2 linked regions of the Homo sapiens genome follow. The protein of the gene in region 1 purifies or fractionates together with the protein of each later gene. This does not show direct contact. Each region holds a gene or a part of one and is shown in the gene's direction. Other genes may lie near its edges.

The links.
Region 2: the proteins of FAM81A (region 1) and BEND3 purify together in Homo sapiens (affinity purification with mass spectrometry; one large-scale study listed by BioGRID and IntAct). This does not show direct contact.

What each region holds. Positions count from the first base shown.
Region 1 is NC_000015.10:59,511,186-59,514,685, forward strand, and holds part of FAM81A (protein FAM81A), read left to right. Parts: intron 1-3,103; coding exon 3,104-3,239; intron 3,240-3,500.
Region 2 is NC_000006.12:107,064,682-107,067,598, reverse strand, and holds the end of BEND3 (BEN domain-containing protein 3), read left to right. Parts: 3' UTR 1-2,417; downstream 2,418-2,917. UniProt on the Homo sapiens protein: Transcriptional repressor which associates with the NoRC (nucleolar remodeling complex) complex and plays a key role in repressing rDNA transcription.

The sequences.
Region 1 (3,500 bases):
CATTGGGCAAATCTAAACAAACAGTAATATTAAAGTCAGATTTGCAGAGGATCAAAACACAACTAAAATATAGGTCAATGACAACATCTAAATGAGGAGGAAGATTTCTGAAATTATTCTTAGGAGTTTTTCAGGATCAAATTAGAAACATTGAATAACTTTAGACTTTGATAAATTAAATGTGTGTATTAAAATTTCCATTCTAAAAGAATAAAATTGGTATAATTTCCAAACATTAGAAGAAATCCAAAGGACACGGGTTCACATCAGATATGTGAAAGTGTTAGCAAGGATGTGGGGAACAGGACCTCTTTATAGCGCTGAGTAAAATGTGAAGTAGTACAACCACTCTAGAAAACAGTCTGGTGTTTTCTGGAAAAGTTGGACGTGTTCAGACCCTAGAGAAATTCTCCCAAATGTGAACCAGGAGCTATGTATCAGTATTTTTGTAACAGCATTATTATTTATTTTATTTATTTATTTTGAGATGGAGTCTTGCTGTGTCGCCAGGCTGGAGCGCAGTGTGCTTGATCTCGGCTCACTGCAACCTCCACCTCCCGGGTTCAGCGATTCTCCTGCCTCAGCCTCCCGAGTAGCTGGGACTACAGGCACGTGCCACCATGCCCAGCTAATTTTTGTATTTTTGGTAGAGATGGGGTTTCACCATGTTAGCCAGGATGGTCTCAATCTCCTGACCTCGTGATCTGCCCACCTCGGCCTCCCAAAGTGCTGGGATTACAGGCGTAAGCCACTGCACCCGGCCCATAACAGCATTATTTTTAATAGCAAAGATGGATAAAAACAAACCAAAACAAATGTCCATCAACAGAAGACTGGATAAGCTGTGGTATATTCATAAAATTGAATATTATTCAACAATGAAAATGAATTCACTACAGCTATACAAATCAGCATGAATGAATCTCACAGACATATGTTGAGTGAAAAATGAGTAGAAAACTCACACTTTAGTACGTTCCATTTGTATAAAATTTAAAAATATGCAATGCTGGCCAGGCGAGGGGGCTAACGCCTGTAATCCCAGCACTGTGGGAGGCCAAGGCAGGCAGATCACTTGAGTTTGGGAGACTAGCCTGGCCAACATGGTGAAACCCTGTCTGTACAAAAATACAAAAATTAGCTGGGCATGGTGGTGCGCGCCTGTAGTCCCAGCTATTCAAGAGGCTGAGGCCGGAGAATCACTTGAACCTGAGAGGCAGAGGTTGCAGTGAGCCAAAATCACACCACTGTACTCCAGCCTGGGCGACAGAGCGAAACTCCATCTCAAAAAAAAAAAAAAAAAAAAAAAAAAGCAATGCTGAAAAATATGCTGTTTTAAGATCCAAACCAATAGAATAAAATGATGAAGAACAATAAGTTCCAGTTAATGGTTACTTCTTGGGTTGTGGGGTGATCGCAAAGTACACTTGGGTCTTCTAAGGTCCTGGCAGTGTTCCATGTCTTACCTGGCAGGGGTTCACGGTTGTGTACTTAGGGTACAGGCTAGCTTCCATGCTGGCTCTCACATAACAGTGCGGAGATCAGTGGTCCAGAGGAGACAGGCAGCAGTCGCAACTCAGTGTGGTTTTTCCAAGGCTCCAGTCCTCGTCCCTTCCCAGTCACCTGGGACAGGGAGAGAGTCCAGGGCAGAAGCTTTGTTTTTAAAGATAGGACTGGAAAGGCGTGCTTATGACTTTGATGCATCATGAGGCTATATCTCGCTGCAAGGGATCCTGGGAAATGTGGTCTCTGGCTAGGCAGCCATGTACCCAGTTAACATTTGAGGGCTTCTTAATAAGGAAGAAGAAGAGAACAGATATTGCAGGACAAGTGGTAGCTCTACTACAATGGGTGTTCATGTTATCACTATTTAAGTCACATGTCTACATCACATACATTCTTCTGTATTTTATTACATATTATAATAAAAACTGGAAAGAAGTAATTAAGAGGGAGGTAGCAGGTATGGACAGTTATAAGGAATTTGGGAAGGGAGAGGAATGGAAGGATGGGAGGGTTTTATTTTTTTCTTTCAATTTTTCTTTTGATTTACATTAGGAAATATCCATAGAGGACAAGGGCAATTTGGGGAACGTTAGAGAGAAAGGGAGCCAGGTTCTAGTCCCAAGAGATAAAAGGGACTAGGAGGAAGAGCCTGGGGAAGAAGGGGACCCTAGAAGAGGAGATGAGAGACACTGTGTCCTCTGAGCCAGGAGTATCGTGGACCCTCGGAACTGCCGGGGTCTGTGGCTGGCCCAGCTCTGTGTCGCTGTGTCACCTCAGTGCCTGTGCCGCGTACTCCTCGTGGGTAGGAAGCACAATCAGATGGTTTATCTGTTGTATTCTCCCGCCTTACCAGCTTCCCATGTTAGTGCTAAGTGCAATTCTAAGAAAAGGAAAATATGTAATTCTGATTGAGCCTAGTTTAATGTTGGCATATATACCAGAAATATGATAGTTGGAAATTGATATTGTATGATGTCATTAAAAAAAATTGTTAGAACCAGAAATACCATTTGACCCAGCAATCCCATTACTGGGCATATACCCAAAGGAATATACATCATTCAGTTACAAAGATACATGCATACGTATGTTCACTGCAGCAGTGTTCACAATAGCAAAGATATGGAATCAACCGAAATGTCCATCAATGATAGACTAGATAAAGAAAATATGGTACTTATATAGCATGGAATACTGTGCAACCATAAAAAGGAATGAGATCATGCCCTTTGCAGGGACATGGATGGATCTGGAAGCCATTATCCTCAGCAAAGTAACACAGGAACAGAAAACCAAACACCACATGTTCTTACTTATAAGTGGGAGCTGAACAATGAGAACATGTGGACACAGGGAGGGGACCAACACATACTGGGGCTTGGGGGCATGGGGGGGGCAAGGGAGAGCATCAGGAAAAATAGCTAATAGATGCAGGGCTTAATACCTAGGTGATGGGTTGACAGATGCAGCAAACCACCATGGCACATGTTTACCTGTGTAACAAATCTGTATATCCTCAACATGTACCCTGGAACTTAAAATAAAAAAAATAAAAAATAAACTGTTTTACATCTAACTTGCAATTTTTTTTTTTTAGATTTAAAGGTACAGTTGAGGAACTCAGTAACCAGATATTATCTGCACGGAGTTGGTTGCAACAGGAACAAGAACGGATAGAAAAAGAGCTTTTACAGAAAATTGATCAGCTTTCCTTGATTGTTAAGGAAAACAGTGTAGGTATTGATGTTTAGCAAAAATTTAGTAAAGTTATTCAGTGGGGGCCTACACTGTTTGAATAATAATACCTAGTAATTTATCACTGATTTAGCTGTTCAATTGTTTCTTGCCTTAAAATCCATTTCCATAGTTCCATATTGATGCTTTGTATTCTTCATAAAGACATAGAACACTCTGACTTGTTTTGGTTAACAAAGACTAAGTAGAAAATTTCAGTACTTTCAGTTAAGATGAAGTTAAGCTAAAACCTTAATGAT
Region 2 (2,917 bases), on another chromosome or scaffold:
CAGGCCATTTTAGATGGGGTACACATGTCCCTTCCCAGGGTCCACTCAGAACTTTCCTCTTGGACTCTCTAGAAGGTCCTGCTGTCCTATACCTGGCCACCCCCTGCCTTGGGGGGCACATGTCTTCGTTCCCTCCCGACTGGGAATGTCAGGCTCCTGCAGGCCAGCTGCATGCTCTCCAGGAGCACCAACTGGGAAATCCCCTGACAGGTAAAGTCCTTTAAAATGATACTTTTACCTACCTAACTCTGGGGGCCAAATGCTTAAGAGGGAAAGGAAACAGTCGAATGCAAACAGTGTGTCATACCAGAGTCCTGGAAAATTTATTGAATCACACAGGGTAGTCATAGAACCCCTGTGGGATGGCTTAATATTTTGCTACTTTAAAATGCAGAGATAACAGAAACAATCTGGATTTTCTTCATTCAGCTGATAAGAACTTCAGTTCCAGTGGCTGTATGACATAATTTTGCCTGTACCCAGGAGCATTTTTTAAAATACAGGATTTTAAAAGCAATGTTAAGTTGCTGATCTAACTAGTAAATTTGCTCCTAAGTGTCATTTACAGATTATTTCTGTTGAAACTGCAAACAGATTTAGAAAGGCACAGGGACTGAATGACTCTCTGTCTTACACAGCTACTCATGCACACACGCACTGCTTACTAAAAGCTGAAGTGAGATGAAGGGGGCCTACACGAATAACAAGTTCAACTTCTTTGTGCCTGGAAAGGAGGGACTGGAGCAGCCAGGAGACTCACTTTCCCCCCTCGCTTGGGCCCTTCTCTATGCCTTAGTCTCTCCAGCACATGCACACAGCATGCACACACACGCACCCTACCCAAAGACAGCTGTGGCCCTCTCCCACCACCTCCCCCTTCCCACCGCTGGTTGTTGGGGGCTGGAGGCGGGAGGTCCCATGGAATTTGTTCTGGTTTCTAGGATGTAAACGAGGACTCCAAGCCATGAATTGCCCTGCTTTCTAGAGGGTGGAATGTTGACCCTGCAACTTTAGAAGCACAATCATTTATTAATAATTTTTTTGAAACTCCCATCTACCCCTGTTAGAGAAATCAACAGGTTCTAGGAATTAAATATGTCTCTTTGTAACCCAGAGCATGTTCAATTTTTGGAAACCGTATTTCAGTGATTTTCTTAATACCTTACATGTGTAGGGCATCTTCCCCCAGAATCTTACAGTCCCTTTCTGTGAAGAGAAGTGGACACACGTGGGAACTCTCACCATCTCTGGACTGTCGTCAGGAAACGCCTGCAGGTCCTTGCCCTGTCTGTATGGTGTCCTCACTTCTCCATCCATACAGGTGGCTCCAGTGGGCATTTTTTTATTTTAAATTTTTTACATGAAGCAATAGAAGTACAAAATACTTATTTTTTCAAAATTTAATGTGTTCCATGAAACCTGTTGGCAGTCGCTTTCCTTCCCCCACATCTAAATTCTTTGGTTTTTAGTTGTTTGTTTTTTGGATTTTTTTTTTTTTTTTTTTGGCCTTGTATCCCAAGGACTAAAAGATTAGCACAGACACGTTTTGATGTTGAATGAACTAGTAAGTCACAGTAGGTGGTAGTCTTCATTGATTTCTCTGTAAGTTTTTAAAGAATGTATGAAGATAGTCACGAATGTACTGAGTGTTCGCATCCCCCTTCAGTTCACCTTGGCTGTGTCTACAGGACAACAAATGTTTGACAGGGAATAAAGTCGTGTCTGGTGTCATTTGCGCTAGCGTGCCCCTCCCCTTTCGGTGTTGGCTCCAAACCTTCCTTTCCTTTTATGTTTGTGGGGAGTGGGGAACCACATCAGCAGCAATCATCAACCAACCAACCAATGGGATCTACTTAGTGGTGAATAGATTGGCTATTTAATTGGTAAAAGTTGCTGGTCTGACCACACCACAGCATGACCACTGGGTTCATTTAGAGATGGCCTCCGTTTCCAACGTTCCCCACAAATGTTTGCTTCTTTCCCAGTCAAGAGGGGATCTCGAGACTCCCGAGTGGAGGTCGTGAGCTTGCACCCCGCCTGGCTGTGTAGATCGACTGTATAGATACATGAAGTGGGGGTGAGGGCCAAGGGGCTATTACTGCTGTTGGGAAATACTTGCCTCTCGTAGATCCAGCCTTAATGTTTTTCTGACATCCTAGTAATAGCAGACCCTGCACAAAGTGGATATCAGACTTAATACTGTGAGGAGACAAAATAATGAGAATAGTTTTACCAAAGATAATGAAATCTCGCATCATGTCTGCATTTTACCATAGATTGGAGTGCATCCTTAGGAAACTGAATGTAACAAAAACCCAGGACATTTTTGGAAATTGTATGCTCTCTAGCAACTTTGTGTGAATTTTTATACAAACACTGTTTTATGAGTTATATAAAATGTTATAAAAATAGAAAAACATGGTCTCGTAACATGTTATTTTCTTAGAGCACTGGTCTCTCAGAATATGTCTTGGTCTATTTGTCTTTGTGCGTGGCCTCCTCACCCACCTCCCAGGGAAGAACGTGAATATTCCGGGGGATTTCAGCTTCTGGGGCTTCCATACTCTACGTGTCAGGGGTACAGCTCATAGGATTTCAGTTTGGCCACAGCTGAATGAATGAGAAATTGCCAGATAAATCCTCCAAACCATTTCTCCACAAACCACTTCCTGGCCATGTAGTGGGAGGCTTGTTTGACCTTTTTTAACCTTTCCTGGTCAGGTGCCAGGCCAGTCCTGCAAAGCCAGCAGAGTTTCATTTTCATTTAACCGCCTTTTTTTTTTTCACTTTGGATCAAATGGGTTTTAGTTTCCCGCCGCCCCAACCCTGCTAGAGTGCAGTGGTATAATCATGGCTCACTGCAGCCTCGACTTCCTGGGCTCAAGTGATCTTCCTGCCACAGACTCCTAAGTAGCTG